Linked DNA regions of Homo sapiens: region 1 is linked to region 2. Evidence: fine-mapped expression QTL. A gene starts in region 2. The other region holds a variant in brackets. All regions are shown on one strand. Distances are between the middles of the regions.

Region 1 (8,482 bases), 55 kb after region 2:
CACGTATGTTCACTGCAGCACTATTTACAATAGCAAAGACATGGAATCAACCTAAATGCCCATCAATGGTAGACTGGATAAAGAAAATATGGTACATATATATATCATGGAATACTATGCAGCCATAAAAAGGGATGAGATCATGTCCTTTTGCAGGAACATGGGTAGAGCTGGAGGCCATTATCCTTATCAAACTAATGCAGGAACAGAAAACCAAACACCACATGTTCTCACTTACAAGGTAGAGCTAAATGATGAGCACATATGGACACATAGAGGGGAACAACACACATTGAAGCCTATTGGAAAATGAGGGGTGGGATGGGGGAGAGGATCAGGAAAAAAAACTAATGGATACTAGGCTGAATACCTGGGTGACAAAATAATCTGTACAACAAACCCCTATGACACAAGTTTACCTATATAACGAACATAAACATGTACTCCTGAACTTAAAATAAAATTTAAATTAAAAAAAAATCCTAAAAATAAGAAAATGAAAAACAAGCCACACGTTAGAATAATATGTTGGTTAACACTTACCTGACAAAGCATTGGTATGCAGAATATATAAATAACCCTCACAACACAATAATTAGAAAACAAACACACTGAATTTTAAAATGGGCAAAACTATTTGAATTCACCAAAGGAGACACAGATGGCAAAAAAAAAAATCATAAAATGATGCCCACTATCATTAGTCATTAGGGAAATTTAAATCATAACCACAGCCCATCTATTCCAATGGCTAAAATTTAAAAAATCAGATAATCTGGTTGGGTGCAGTGGCTCACGCCTGTAATCCCAGCACTTTGGGAGGCTGAGGCGGGCAGATCATCTAAGGTCAGGAGTTCAAGACCAGCCTGGCCAACATGGTGAAACTCCACCTCTACTAAAAATACAAAAATTATCCCGGTGTGGTCGTGGGCACCTGTAATCCCAGCTACTTGGGAGGCTGAGGCAGGAGAATCGCTTAGACCCAGGAGGCAGAGGTTGCAGTGAGCCAAGATGGCACCATTGCACTCCAGCCTGGGAGACAAGAGCGAGACTCTGTCTCAAAAAAAAAAAAAAAAAAAAAATCCTATAATTGTAAGTGCTTAGGGAAATCTAAATCATAACAACAGCCCAGCTAGTCAAATGGCTAAGAATTTAAAAACTCAGTAATCCTAAGTGCTTATAGTAATGTGGAGTGAGTGAAACTATCACACATTGCCAATGCAAATGCAGATTTTTACTGCCTGATTGGAAAATGGTTTGGCAGTTTCTTTTAAAGTTATACATACACTTACCATATGACTTCAAAATCTCACCACTAGAAATTTACTGAAAAGAAATGAAAACACATCTTGCACACGAAGACTTGCACACAAATGTTTATATTGCTATTATTCATAATTGCCAAAATTGGCAGACAACGGAAATGTCTACCAACTGGTGCATGCATAAACCATATTGCAGCAAACCTATTCAATGGAATATTATTTAGCATGCAACAACACTGATGAATCTCAAATATATTAAAAGAAAGATGCCCGTTTCAAATGCTACATACTATAGGATTCCATTGAGATGTCCTTCCAGAAAAGGCAAAGCTATTAAGACACAGAGCAGATTGGTAGTTATCAGGCTCTGGCCTTGGAGGAAGAAAACTGATTACAAAGGACACAAAGAAACATTTGGAGTGATAGAAATGTTCTGTTTCTTGTTTGTGGTATTGTAAACACAACGGTATAAATTTGTCAGGATTTATAAAACGGTACACCTAAAAACATCGATTTTGCAATATGTATAATGCATCTCAATATCTTGATTTTTAAAAAGCTAAATGCGGCTTACAGAGGGAAGATAACTTGAGATTGAGTATCTTGTTTCTAAACATAAATTGTTGATGTGTTGGCAAGTACAACTTCTATCTTTAATAAAAGTTGCCGTGGATTCTCTCAACGATGCACACTTAAATGCAGACTAAAAGTAAATATTGATCTTTTGGGATTTATCTTCATTTTTCCTGTCTTCCTTTCCTTGGCTTTTAAAGATCACTTCACTAGAAAGAAAGATAAAGGATATTAGTTGTTATCTCTGGAAGTGGGATCACAGGATTAAAGAATTTTGTTCTTTATATATTTTTGTATTTTTCAATGATACTATGGTTACCATGTATTATTTTTATAATCAGAAAACATATTAAAAGAAGACAGTACCCCAAATTACCTTAAGATTGCTATTTGAAGATATCTGACTTTCCAGTGCTACACACGCAGAGTCACTCTCTTTCTGCCACCTATCTAATTTAGATTGGTTCCTAAGAGACTAACAGATGTTGGTCACCAAGTGGCTTTGCAACCAAAACAGTTACCCCAGGCGAGCCATGGTGAAAGTGATGCCTATTTCTGACTTGCACAAAATATGTCTTCACCCATAATACACACAATCTGTATGAAATATGGCCTGTCTTATGTTCAAATACATATACCTACTTAGACACAAATTTAAAAATTCCCATAAAAAATAAAAATAAATAAATAAATGAGGCCCAGCTAATATCTTCCTGGAACAAGACTCAAGTATTAAGGATTCAGAGAGCTTCACTCTTTCCCTGTTTTGCCTTGAGGGCACCTTTTGCAAGGGATAATGAAGTGTTCTCACTGATTCTCTATTTGGTTTCCAGACTTTGATGTGCTTAAATAAAAATTTTGGTGTTGCCTTTGATCCAGTGAAGCCTAGAGGTGCCCTCCCCTTCAGGGAGGAAGTAAGTGTTAGTTCAGCCTTGTATGACCAACAGCTTGGGTCAACAGCAGAGAGCATGGCACAGATGCTAGAAGCGAAGGCTTTGTTCACAGATAAACCTGAGTCCAAAGCATGTCTCTGTCATTTACTAAATGTGTCATCTTATGTATGCTGTATCTCTTCTTTAAGGCCTCACTTTACTCATTGGTAAAAGTGTTAAAATAATAATAGCTACCTCATAGGGTCATCATGACTCTCGAAAGAAATAATGCAAATAAATTATGCAGTACAGTGCCTGGCATAGATCATGTATTTACTACAAATTCACTGTTTATATATATAAGGAAGGAGGAAGGGGAAAATGTACAGATGTGTTCTACCATCTAGCAATAGAGAGGATGGCAAAGGAGGCCTAGTGTGCCTCTGGGTTAGTTTGCATGGAGTGTGGGGCTCGGAGGAGTGTGAGAAATGCATTTGGTGTGGAGCATGTGATTGGGTAAGAGAGGGCTTTAAAAGCTAGTTAGGGAAGTTAACTAGATATAAAAAGCTGTGGTATGTTTTTGAACACATTGTATTGCAAAATAGCAAAACGTAAGTGTAGGGTTTCCTTTCAGAGACTATGAAATTTCTTTTAAACATTACCGTGTACCAGGGACCATACCACGCCAGGGTAAGAATTATTCTACTCATTTTAAAGATGGTGATATTGTGGCCCAGTAAGATAAAAATTAGCCCCTGTTCACCTTTTAAATCCACCTCATCTATTAAATGGGGATTAAATCAGTGTGTGTGAGGGTAACACCAGAGCCAGCCTGTGAAAAGCACCTTCCACAGAATTGATGTTCAACAAGCACTAATGCCCCTTAATTCTGTGTTAGCTTTAAAGACTGGGCCTCTGTCCTATTCTCATGACCAAGCCCCAGGTTTGTCCAGTTCCACTCACCTCTTTGGTCCTGCCATGCTTGTGTCCCTGTGTGGATAACCTGCTCAGGATTTGATCATTTTCAGCACTGAGCAGCTTTCTCTAAACCCCACTTCATGGTTGTGACTGTGCTCCTCCTTCTAAGCTTTGTGGACAGGAACTGCCGGCCTCTGCTGGCCTGCCTGTCTGCTTTCATCTCTAAATGCTGCCATGCTTCAGCCTTTTGCTAGGACCCACAGTCTGATGGTTCTTTGACATGATTTCCTGCCGGGAATATCACCCATTGTCCAGTATGTACATGCATCTTTTCAAGTTGCTTTTCCAACAGTGGAGTTTGTTAAAAGTAGAGTTGCCTGGGCCCTATTCTAGACTAACTAATTTAGAAGTCCCCAAGATGTGGCCTGGAAATCTGTATTTTAAGAATGTTCCCGAGGTCGCTGGTAAGATGGCCGAATCAACACAGAAGGCGAGTGATTTCCGCATTTCCAACTGAGGTACCCGGCTCATCTCAATGGGACTGGTGAGACAGTGGGTGCAGCCCACAGAGGGCGGGCAGAAGCAGGGTGGGGCGTTGCCTTACCCAGAAAGTGCAAGGGGTCAGGAAACTCCCTCCACTAGCCAAGGGAGGCGTGAGGGTCTGTGCTATGAGGAATGATGCACTCCAGCCCAGATACTATGCTTTTCCCACAGTCTTCACAACCCGCAGACCAGGAGATTCCCTCGGGTGCCTACACCACTGGTGCCCTGGGTTTCAAGTACAAAACTGGGTGGATGTTTGTGCAGACACCAAGCTAGCTGCAGGAGTTTTTTTTTAATATCCCAGTAGCACCTGGAATGCCAACGAGAAAGAACCGGTCAC[C/A]CCCCTGGAAAGGAGGCTGAAGCTGGGAGCCAAGTGGTCTAGCTCAGCAGATCCCAACCTCATGGAGCCCAGCAAGCTAAGATCCACAGGCTTGAAATTCTGGCTGCCAGCACAGCTGTCTGGATTTGACCTGGGACACTCCAGCTTATTGAGGGGAGGGGCATCCGCCATTACTGAGGCTTGAGTAGACCATTTCCCCTCACAGTGTAACAAAGGCTATTGGGAAGTTTGAACCCGGAAGAGCACACCACAGCTCCACAAAGCCACTGTAGCCAGACTTCCTCTCTAAATTTCTCCTTTCTGGGCAGGGCATCTCTGAAAAAAGGCAGCAGCTCCAGTCAGGGGCTTATAGACAAAACTCCCATCTCCCTCAGAGCACCGGGGGGAAGGGGCGTCTGTGGGTGCAGCTTCAGCAAACTTAAACATCCCTGCCTGCTGGCTATGAAGAGAGCAGAGGATCTCCTAGCACAGCTCTCAAGCTCTGCTAAGGGACAGACTGCCGGCTCAAGTGGGTGTCTGACCCCCATGCCTCCTGGCTGGGAGACACCTCCCAGCAGGGGCCAACAGACACCTCATATGGGTGAGCTCTGCCTGGCATCTGGTGGGTGCCCCTCTGGGACGAAGCTTCCAGAGGAAGGAACAGGCAGCAATCTTTGTTGTTCTGCAGCCTCTGCTGGTGATACCCAGGCAAATAGGGTCTGGAAGGGACCTCCAGCAAACTCTACCAGACCTGCAGCAGAGGGGCCAGACTAATAAAGAAGAAAAGAGAGAAGAATCAAATAGACACAATAAAAAATGATAAAGGGGCTATCACCACTGATCCCACAGAAATATGAACTACCATCTGAGAATACCATAAACACTTCTACGCAAATAAACTAGAAAATCTAGAAGAAATGGATAAATTCCTGGATACCTACACCCTCCCAAGACTAAATCAGGAAGAAGTCAAATCCCTGAATAGACCAATAACATGTTCTGAAATTGAGGCAGTAATTAATAGCCTACCAACCAAAAAAAAGCCCAGGACCAGATGGATTCACAGCCGAATTCTACCAGGGGTACAAAGAGGAGCTGGTACCATTCCTCCTGAAACTATTCCAAACAATTTGAAAAGAGAGACTCCTCCCTAACTCATTTTATGAGGCCAGCATCATCCCGATACCAAAACCTGGCAGAGACATAATAAAAAAAGAAAATTTCAGGCCAATATCCCTGATGACATCGATGAGAAAAATCCTTAATAAAATACTGGCAAACCGAATCCAGCAGCACATCAAAAAGCTTATCCACCATGATCAAGTCAGTTTCATCCCTGGGATGCACACGCAAATTCAACATAAGCAAATTGATAAACATAATCCGTCACATAAACACAACCAATGATAAAAACCACATGATCATCTCAATAGATGCAGAAAAGGCCTTTGATAAAATTCAACACCCCTTCATGCTAAAAACTCTCAATAAACTAGGTGTTGATGGAATGGATCTCAAAATAATAAGAGCTATTTATGACAAACCACAGCCAATATCATACTGAATGGGCAAAAGCTGGAAGTATTCCCTTTGAAAACCAACACAGGACAAGGATGCCCTCTCTCACCACTACTATTGAACATAGTATTGGAAGTTCTGGGCAGGGCATTCAGGCAAGAGAAAGAAACAAAGGTATTCAAAGATGAAGAGAGGAAGTCAAATTGTCTGTTTGTAGATGACATGATTGTATATTTAGAGAACCCCATCATCTCAGCCCAAAATCTCCTTCAGCTGTTAAACAACTTCAGCAAAGTCTCGGGATAAAAATCAATGTGCAAAAATCACAAGCATTCCTATACACCAATAATAGACAAACAGAGAACCAAATCATGAGTGAACTCTCATTCACAATTGCTACAAAGAGAGTAAAATACCTAGGAATACAACTTACAAGGGATGTGAAGGACTTCTTCAAGGAGAGCTACAAACCACTGCTCAGTGAAATAACAGAGGACACAAACAAATGGAAAAACATTCCATGCTCATGGATAGGAAGAATCAATATCATGAAAATGGCCATACTGCCCAAAGTAATTTATAGATTCAATGCTAACCCCATCAAGCTACCATTGACTTTTTTCACAGAATAAGAAAAAACTACTTTAATTTTCATATGGAACCAAAAAACAGCCTGCATAGCAAAGAACAATCCTAAGCAAAAAGAATAAAGCTGGAGGCATCATGCTACCTGACTTCAAACTATGCTACGAGGCTATGGTAACCAAAAGAGCATGGTACTGGTACCAAAACAGATATATAGACCAATGGAACAGAATGAAGGCCTCAGAAATAAAACCACACATCTACAACCATCTGATCTTTGACAAACCTGAGAAAAACAAGCAATGGGGAAAGAATCCCCTATTTAATAAATGGTGTTGGGAAAACTGGCTAGCCATATGCAGAAAACTGAAACTGGACCCCTTCCTTAAACCTTATACAAAAATTAACTCAAGATGGATTAAAGACATAAATGTAACATTTAAAACTGTAAAAACTCTAGAAGAAAACCTAGGCAATACCATTCAGGATATAGGCATGGGCAAAGACTTCATGACTAAAACACCAAAAGCAATGACAACAAAAGCCAAAATTGACTAATGGGATCTAATTAAACTAAACAGCTTCTGCACACAAAAGAAACTATCATCAATGTGAACAGGCAACCTACAGTTTGGGAGAAAATTTTTGCAATCCATCCGACAAAAGGCTGATATCCAGAATCTACAAAGTACTTAAATAAATTTACAAGAAAAAAACAACCCCATCAAAAAGTGGGCGAAGGATCTGAACAGACACTTCCCCAAAAAAGACATTTATGTGGCCAACAAACATATGAAAAAAAGCTCATCATCACTGGTCATTAGAGAAATGCAAATCAAAACCACAGTGAGATACCGTCTCATGCCAGTTAGAATGGTGATCATTAAAAAGTCAGGAAACAACAGATGCTGAAGAGGATGTGGAGAAATAGGAACATTTTTACACTGTTAGTGGGAGTGTAAGTTAGTTCTACCACTGTGGAAGACAATGTGTTGGCGATTCTGCAAAGGTCTAGAACCAGAAATACCATTTGACCCAGCAATCCCATTACTGGGTATGTATCTAAAGGATTATAAATCATTCTCCTATAAAGACACATGCACATGTATATTTATTGAAGCACTATTCACAATAGCAAAGGCTTGGAACCCAAATGCCCATCAATGATAGACTGGATAAAGAAAATGTGGCACATATACACCATGGATACTATGCAGCCATACAAAAGAATGACTTCATGTCCTTTGCAGGGTCATGGATGAAGCTGAAAGCCATCATTCTCAGCAAACTAACACAGGAACAGAAAATCAAACACTGCATGTTTTCAGTCATAAGTGGGAGGTGAACAATGAGAACTCATGGACACAGGGAGGGGAACATCACACACTGGGGCCTGTCAGGGGTGGGGGGCTAGGGGAGGGGTAGCATTAGGAGAAATACCTTATGTAGATGATGGGTCGATGGGTGCAACAAACCACCATGGCATGTGTATACCTATGTAACAAACCTGCATGTTCTGCACATGTATCCCAGAAATTAAAGTATTTAAAAAAAAAAAAGAATGTTCCCCCAGGTGGATTCTGATACAGCTGTTTGGCAGGCTGGCCTCTGTGAAATAATGATGCAAATGTTTAGATCACATGGCCTCGATGGCCTATTGCAACTCAGTGAGTTCATTGTTGGCTCACCGTTGGGTTGGGTTCACAAATTAAATCCAGGTCAGTACACTGCTTTTCCTAGGAGTTTCTACAACTTCTTCAAGACAAACAGTGTTCAGTGTTCCCTCCACATCTCCTCTGGATGAACCCATCTTAGTGATGTCTATGTGATGTTACAAGTCCTGCAGGATAACTTGGAAGCTCATCTGCTACTGCAGCTAGCTTAGCATT
Region 2 (8,482 bases):
AAAATAAGTAACCACTTATAGAGTTAATTAATTAATAGCCATACTTAATGAATGTCCCTATATTTTCGGGATATACTAGGTGAAACCATCCCACCCACAATATTAAATCACATATTAAAATTGTGGTTTGTGCTAACTCAGTAATGGAGTCCTAAAAGATACATATATAACCTCAGAAAATTCTGTATTCTGGGAAACGCTGACTTGAATAAATGTAACCAAGTTTTTGTCGTTGATATAGTTAACTATAGTACTTCTCATAGTCTTTGATATAATGATGCCCATGTTGAGAATCTCTACAAGAGGAAAAAAAAATAATAGGCAGTGCTTCCCAAATGGATTTGCCCTTTATAAGAGCAAACTGATTAATACCCACCCCAACAGCACTTTACCCAACATATTCTCGGAACTGCTGAGCTAACTGCTCAGCAATTCAATCAGCTGGACAGCATTGAGTAGAAACCATATTTTCTACCAGAATAAGGAACTAACCTTGCTTTGTTTGAGGATGTCATCAATTGATAGTCACTACACTAACATACTAGGTTACAGAAGAAAAAAAAACTGCACATTAAATGCGTTCATACTTTTTTTTTCTTTTCTTTTTTTTTTTTTTTGAGATGGAGATTCACTCTTGTTGCCCAGGCTGGAGTGCAATGGCACGATCTCGGCTCACTGCAACCTTCGTCTCCCAGATTCAAGCAATTCTCTTGCCTCAGCCTCCCGAGTAGCTGGTATTACAGGTGCCCACCACCACATCCAGCTAATTTGTTTTTGTATTTTTAGTAGAGACAGGTTTTCATCATGTTGGTCAGGCTGCTCTTGAACTCCTGACCTCAGGTGATCCACCCGCCTCAGCCTCCCAAAGCGCTGGGATTACAGGTGTGAGCCACTGCACCTGGCCTAAATGTGTTCATAATTTTTAAGATCCATCTGGGCTTCTGAAATCAGAAAAAGAATGTATCTTAGAAATGAGCTAGTGCAGTATAACTAGTGTTTTAGTTTAAAAGCACCCTCTAGGAACATAGAGAATAATGCTCTAGGAATGGGCCCTGACTCTCTGTGACTCAGTAATAACAGTCCTAATGACCAAAAAGAAATAAAGTGTCATAATGACCGTCTCACAACAGATTTATTAAAGGGAGCAAAGATACCATGTACTGAGAAAAGTGAACAACAGTGATAAGAGGCTGCCCTCAAAGCAGGGGTAACACCCAAAATATAAACATCAGGTTATGGGAAGAAATTTTAAAATAGAAATGTTCCCTACTTATACTAAGTGGGAAAAACCATTGAAATTAACTAATGAATCTTAAGAGTGACAACCAGAAGGCTGTTCCTTCACCAAGTGCTGACTGCTGTCAGGAAGACAGGTTTGGGCCTGAAAGTTTTATCTACTAAAACACTAAGTGTACACTTGAGTTTTTTAAAGGTTTCTGATTTACTGATAGGTTTCTCTAGTGCTAATCATTTTAAAACTAAAACAAAGCACAAATGGACAGCTGAGATAAAGCATGACAGTGAGCTGGGATCCCATTTGGCCTAGCAACACAAGAACTAGTTAAGGCACTGACTGACCTCCTCTTATACCTAATTGATTTGGGCACTACATTATGTAAACTTTATTTCTTCCTTAGGATGTTATTGCAGGAACCCTCCTGACTCAAGCAGGCTCCCACAGCCTCTCTGATGCAAAGCAGTCAAAATTCAAGGCCACAGTCTAGGTCATAGGAAGTCATGGTGAGCTCACAGCACAGGACTATGGCGTGGGGGAAAAGGAAAAGAGCTTAAGATTGGGTTAGGTCCCAATAGTGCTTCATTACAAGCTAGGTTACACAGGACACCACACTAATACTGATCAGCTGCCCCTGAAAGCCAGCCTTCTACCCTCTTAGAGACGAAGAGAGGGTCTCAGCCACTGCCAATGCCACTACCATTCTCCAGAAGGAATGAAAGGGCTTTGCCAGGTCTAACCACCATGGGACATTTGTCGTGGGGTGTACTTCATGCTCCTTCCAGGGCCTGGGTAAGCTGTCCATTCGGAAAAGACACCACTGCAAATTCTTCTTAAACTTGTTCCCTAGGTGATCTATTCTGTCCTCCAACCTTAAGGTTCAAGCTGTCAGAACTGTACGTAACCTCCTTTCCACAAATGTCTGAGGTTTCTCCAAAAAAGGAAATGGGGTAGTTTTTAGATTTTATAAATTATAAAGGTCACCAATCCGGCACTACCCAAGGGTGATCTAAAACCTGAGACTACATATTTTACAGTATGAAAAGAAGGGGGAATCCTACCTCTTTGTAAAATACATCCATTTGAAGAGCAATCAGAATTATTAAACCTAGATAATGGTAAGTGGCACAGGCATTGGAACATAAAATGCCTAAGGAGACTTCCCAACACACCCCCAAAGAAACCTTGTCTCTGTATATGAGCTAGTAAAATAATGGCATTTCACAACAAACGTCATCTCTCTTACTATCTCCCACTCCATAAGTTAGTGATTCTATAGGCATGGTCTGTAGCACCATTAGCATCATCTGGAACTAGTCAGAAATGCTAATTCTTGGGCCTTCACCCTAGACCTAGAGAATCAGAGACTCTGGCAGTATAGCCCAACAGTTTGAGATGTAACAAGCCCTCCAGATGATTCTGATCTGAGAACCACTGCCCTAAGATTAGGGAAGATGCTGCACCTGGGGTGGCTCAGGAGCCTGTGTGAACCCTTTTTAACTGAGTGATAATCTCACCTGTTCTTGCCTTCAATTGATACTGGCTTTTAATCTTCATAGACTGATTTCACAGATTAGGATTTGAGTCCTTAGTTCAAGGTCACTATTAGAGGTCAAGTCAGAGCTCCATTCCAGGATCTGCTGACTTCTTCATCAGCCTTGAGTTTCAAACTAAGGCCTTTCTGACCGTGCCAATTCTGGGGCCTAGGACTCTGAATGTTGATAAGGCCACCCCAGTCATCTCCTAATCTACATCATGCTGCCTTCCTCAGATAAATATGAGGACTGGAGCTCCAATTCTTAAAATCAAAAGAGATGGATTTGAGGATAGAGAAAGAAAAAGGGTAAACAGATGCTTCCAAAGGCCCAAGCAACTAAACCACTTGGTGAGGAGTGGACAGAGAGGAGAGAAGACCTAGATGTCTTGTTATAATTAAGAATTAGCTCATTCAAAACAACTGAGTAAAGAGCACAGAGACAATATCTAAGACCTGAATGGTGCTTTTAAAGTTTTCTTAGCTCTTTTCATTTTCATTATCTCATCTGAGTTTACAACAACCCTGCAATGGAGGGAGGTAAGGCCACGATTATCTCCGTTTGACAGAAGAGAAAACTTAAGTTCAGAGTGACTAATCATTTGTCCATCAGCACTGTCATCAGCTGTAAAGCTGAAACTTGACCTCAAGTCTGTCTGACTCTAGAACTGTGTAGTGTATCCACATTATGTGATTCGCACATCTAGAAATCGGCCCCAAAGCAGACTACCCTCAAGGAAAAAGCAAAGAGAAAAACAGGCAGCAGAATGGTGAGCCCCTAAATCCTGGCACTTGAGCAGTGTGAGGGTGTCCCTTTAAGAACGTAACACACAAACCCAACAGCCAAGGTGTTCAGCCAAAAAAGAAAAAAAGAGAGGCATATTTCTAGCCTGCATAATCATTTCTGGACCGATTCCCACTAGCAGCCTCTGAGACGAACAGCAGCTCACAGCCTCGGCTGAAGCTCCTCCACCCCCAGGGTGGCTCTGACTAGGGCGCAGCTCTGACTAGTGTGCAGGCAAAACCCCAAAACTCAAAACAAGAAGTGAAAAAAGTGGAGCCAGGAAAAATTCGTCGGCATCCTCCACAGCCTTACAATCCGCACAATGCCAGTTCCAGGGTCCTGGGGTCGCCCGGAAGGCAATCTTAGGAGAGGGTGGAATGAGATGGAAGTTCCTGCGGACCTACCGATCCTATTCTCTCCCACCCAGTCCCTAGGGAAGCGTAATAGGAAGGGGAGAAGGTTCGTTATGAAATCCTGGGGCCAGAACCAAGGGCAGATACACCCCGGGGACTTTCTCCTAAAGAACAAGATGTCTTTCCAAATTCTCCACCTGCAGGTCCTGTCCTCTGTGAAGATGAACGGGGTGGGGTGGTGAGGTGGCGGGGTGTTGTAAACCTGAGGAAAGGTTGGAGGGAAAATCAAGCCACCCACCTACTCCAGCCACGTTGCCCGGCGGTGTTGGTGAGGCTCGATGCCGGCGTGCACGGCAAGCGCGAATTCGGAACCTGGCGCCCTTGACCAAGCCTGAGATCGGAAAGGGGGCATCGCCCAGGGCCAGCGCCCTGGGGGCAGGGTGCCGTGCCCGCCAGAAAAGCTCGCCTCAGTTTTGGCAGTAATGATTTTCCTAGAAGATGCCAGAGTTCGCGAAGATCGGAGTGATTCGCGGATTTCTGCGCTCAAGCTAGAGGCGCAGCGACCCCGAGCTCCCCCACACTGGGAGCCTCGGGGCAGCATTCTCGGGGCCCATGCCATCGCGGGGACGGTGCGGAAAAAAAGGCTCCATCCTCAACTTTCTCGGAGGAAATCGCTCCGTTCTGCGGCTTGCCCAATACTGCCCGCACAACGGGTCCCAGGGTTGGAGAGAACCAGGGACACGAGTCCCTCTCTGCGCGCACAAAGCAGCTGCGCCGGGGCGCGCGGCCCCCTCTCCCGCCACCCGCCAACTTGGAAGAATCTCTCTGGGAGCCTGCCTACTCCCCTGGCCTCACAGCCACCCGCCTCGGACGGAGCGCCAGGCGCCCCAACAGCCGTGGCGGCTGCAACCGCATCTCCCGGGCTTGGCCTCCGCCCTGACCGCCTGGCTCCCCTCGCCCCGGTCCTACCGTGCAGCCTGGCTCGCGCCCCTGCCGTGCCAGTGCGCGGCACGCGTCCCAGAGCACGAGGCTCCTCCCCGGGGGGCTGCCCCGCGCGGGGCTCCGGGCTCCGGACAAGGCTTAGCCGGCCCGGGTGCTGGCTCGCCGCCGCTCGCGGCTCCCGCGCCGGCTCCTGCTGCCGCGCGCGAAAAGGGAGGGGTTGGGGGGAAACTCCCGGCAACTCCAACTCCGGGCGCTGGAGCTCCAGCTGCAGCCGCGCGCCCGCCCGCCGCCGAGTGCGAGCGCCTGCGAAGCAAACCTGCCCGCGCGGCCGCCTCTGAGCATGCTCAGTGCCGCCGTGGGCGAGCCCGAGCGCCCTGGCCCGGGGCAAAGAGCAGCGGCTAGGGGCTGGGGGCTGGGGGCCGGGACCCGCGACCCGCCCCAGGCCTCGGAGCGCGGAGGTGGCAGAGGAAGGGAAAGGCCAATGTAGGGGCGGGGGCCCTGAGCCAAAGACCCGGGAGAAACCGATCTGGGTGCAAGAGCCGGTGCGACTTTCACGGCTTGTGGGAAGTTTGTGGGCTAGAAAGGTGGGCTGCTTCTGTGAGCTTCTCTGTGAGACTATATTCGAAAGGACAACCAGGAAACATTTTTTTTTTTCTCTAGGAAAAAACGAATAGACCCAGCCGATGGGTTTTTATCCTGTGCGCTCCTTCCTTTATTCTTACGATAGCAAACTCAAAGATCTAATGGGGCCTGACAGGCACTGTAACTGGGGGAAGGCGAACTGGAGAGAGCTCCGAAGGCAGGGCCGCTTATCTGCTCTCAGGGTCCCTTGCTATCGGGCAAGAATTAGACCTAGTGTTGCTAGATTTTCTGATTTTTCCAGAAATGACGGAGTATATTCATGTACAATATCCTGATTTGTAAAATCTTGATAACAAATTCAATTTTCTCAAAACACCCTGGACTAAACAAAACATATCTGCGTCCCCTCCCTGCTGAACCCCCCAGACAGTGATTTGAGCATTGTGATTCTGCACTCTTTTAGCGAAGTGGTGCTGAGTGCTCACTGTGGTTTGGGAAAGTGCTGGAAAGGATCCAAGATGATTCAGAATATCTTCGAAGTACTACTAGTTACTAGGGGAAATGGGTTTTCCTGACAGTAGAGCGCTACACTTAAATGCTGGAGCGTTCAAGAAGAAAGACGTTACTAATGTAGAAAGCGGTTGTAAGAACTAACTTTTGGGAAACATCATTAGTAAAAGTATCTGTGTGGGGAGTCACTGCAGGGCCGATAACAGTGCCCCGGAAGGCACTTTTGAGCCTGAAGCAATAGGAAAAACCCCTAAACTTACCCTGTCTTTATTTAAAATTTTGTTATTTTTCATCATGCATTTTTGATATTAATTTTGATTTTTTTAAATATTCCATTAAAATATTAACCTTGATTACTGAATTCTTTGGTGAACCTTTAAGTGCTGTGACTCACCTCACCCTAGCCTGGCCCTGTTGGGGTGTTAGATGGTGGTACACAGACCTGCTTGTTTGGAGTGCAAGGGGTAAGCATTAGCATAGTGAAATAGGAAAGAGGGTTTGAGCTGTGGATGGGGGCTCAGGCAGAAGTCCTGACTGTCAGTCTGTGGCTCCTGCACTTAGTTTGTAGACTACGTGGAGATAGCAGAGATGCTGGGGGAGGAGACAATCCGAACTGAATTCTGTGAAGATGGACAGGGCAGCAGACCCAGGAAGATGGTTTGGAGGGGAAGAATGGGAGAAACGGGGATACCTAGGATATCATAAAACTGATACCCTAGGTATCCCCATTTGGTAGCTACAGTTTTATGAAAATCAGAGAAAATTGCCTGAAAAAGTAAGTTTCTTTTGCTCTGCCTATCTCTGTAGAGACATGTCATGGGGCTACCTTAGTGCCAATGAGTAGTGTGCCGGGGTCCTGGTCTTAACCTCAGCCATTTCCCTACCAGGCTTCCATGGGCAAGTGGCTCAACCTCTAAGCTTCACTTTCCTCATCTGTGGAAGGGAAAACAATTCTCATGGCGTTTTTGTGAGAATCCAAAGAAATGTATGTCTAAGGGCTTTGAAAATGTTGAGAGTTCTTACCTACAAGTCATCTATGTAAAATTTGAATTGAAATAAGGGCCTTTTTGCTTGACAAAAGCTCTAAGTAGCAAGCTTCTTTAATTTAGCAAGCCTTTCTAATGTGTTGGGATGATATTTACAAAACTTTGGAATCAGCTTTTGGGTAACTCAATAATTTTGTGAAGTAAGATACTACTGTACTAGCTTCTATTGCCAGTCATCTCCCTCTACTACCTTCCTTTTTTATCTTCACTTGCCTCTTTTTGTTCTCAATATTGCAGATCTAGTCAAGAGGACTCTCTCCCTCTGTACAAAGTGTTCTCTAACTCATGTACCGGTCATCACGGTAGTGTCTGCCTCAAACACCTGGGACCTACCTTAGTGTGGGAGGTGATTCTCCCTGCAGGTAACCTAATTTGTTGCTGCATTCATGGAGAACAAACCACTGCTTATCTATGGGAAGCATTTTAAGCATGCAGACCTCTCAAAGAAAACAAAAACAAAAACAAAAACAAAAAAGACCGTGGATGTTTAAACAAGAAGCCTTCCAGAAGTCATGTAAAGGAGGAAGTACCTAGCCCAGGATCTGTCACATAACAAGTAGTTACAAATATTTGCAGAATAAATAGCAATTTCCATCGTCAAAGTCTTCTGCATCTGTTTCACCTCCCACAGTGCCTAGGATTTTTTTTTTTTTTTAATCACAATAATGGTAAGGTCATAAAGAAGAACAAGAAGAACAGGAACTAAACATTTATGCAGGGAGAGGTTCTGTACTTTAACAAGTGAAATGCTTTGCTTACATTTTAAATTGTATTTTTAATTCTTGTTAGCAAATAATACATGGTATTTAAAAAAAGTTCAGTGCACAAAAGCTCAGTACAAGGAAAAGCAAGTTTCCCTTCTCAAGAAAGACTAATGTTGCCTGTTTCTTGCATATAGTTATAGAAATACCCTATGCACGTGAGAGCAAGCATAGTCATTTTCTTTTCCATAAAATCTAATCACAAAATGATAGAACTGAAAAAGACCTTATGGTTCATCTAGATGTTAAGTTAGAGGCTTTTAAATTGCTATTCTGGGAAAGAAAAGGAAAACCTAAAAGCGATCTTCCCTGTTTCATAAGTAAGCTCATGATTGTAAGGATGCCAGATCACGTGGCAAAACCCTCCATGTGAACATTAATCACATTAAGTGATACAAGGGAAAACTGAGTTCACCTAAAGTTGCCCTGAAACCCATAATGCCCACTGTCGACCTCAACCTAAAACACCCATGGATATAGATGTCTTAGGTTCCCTACGGCTGTTGAAGGAAGTGCTGTCTAAATAACAAATGGAATAAATTGACATGGACACAGAGGGCTTGATCTGGAATTGGGTATTATAATGTGACTATTTTGAACAGCATCTCTTATGCATCATCAATCACAGTATGTCTTCAAGACTAGTAAAGTCTATATTTAAAATTTTTTTTTCTGCTACATGGTGTAGCAAGTAGCTTTTCAAATTCTTCATTCTGATGATGTAATTTCAGATAAG

Direction of the effects. Alleles are on the strand shown, and positions count from the first base shown. SD is a standard deviation of normalised expression in the study named.
With allele C in place of A in region 1, the expression in testis of the gene that starts at base 5,144 in region 2 is lower (moderate effect, 0.60 SD a copy in GTEx).

Evidence for each region. PIP is the estimated chance that this variant, and not a neighbour inherited with it, causes the effect. A credible set is the group of variants that fine-mapping cannot tell apart.
Region 1: its variant is the best candidate, but not a certain one, in a credible set for the expression of STXBP6 in testis (GTEx, PIP 0.87).

What each region holds. Positions count from the first base shown.
Region 1 is chr14:25,100,215-25,108,696 of GRCh38, forward strand. No RefSeq gene overlaps it. Among named protein-coding and RNA genes, the nearest start is that of LINC02286, 52 kb to the right of the region's middle. The variant C/A (reference allele first, on the strand shown) is at 4,512.
Region 2 is chr14:25,045,004-25,053,485 of GRCh38, forward strand. STXBP6 (syntaxin binding protein 6) reads right to left here and starts at 5,144. Exons shown (of 6, transcript NM_001394410.1): 1 at 4,875-5,144. It overlaps LOC124903295 (a long non-coding RNA gene), which reads left to right and starts at 5,341. Exons shown (of 2, transcript XR_007064091.1): 1 at 5,341-5,431; 2 at 7,223-7,587.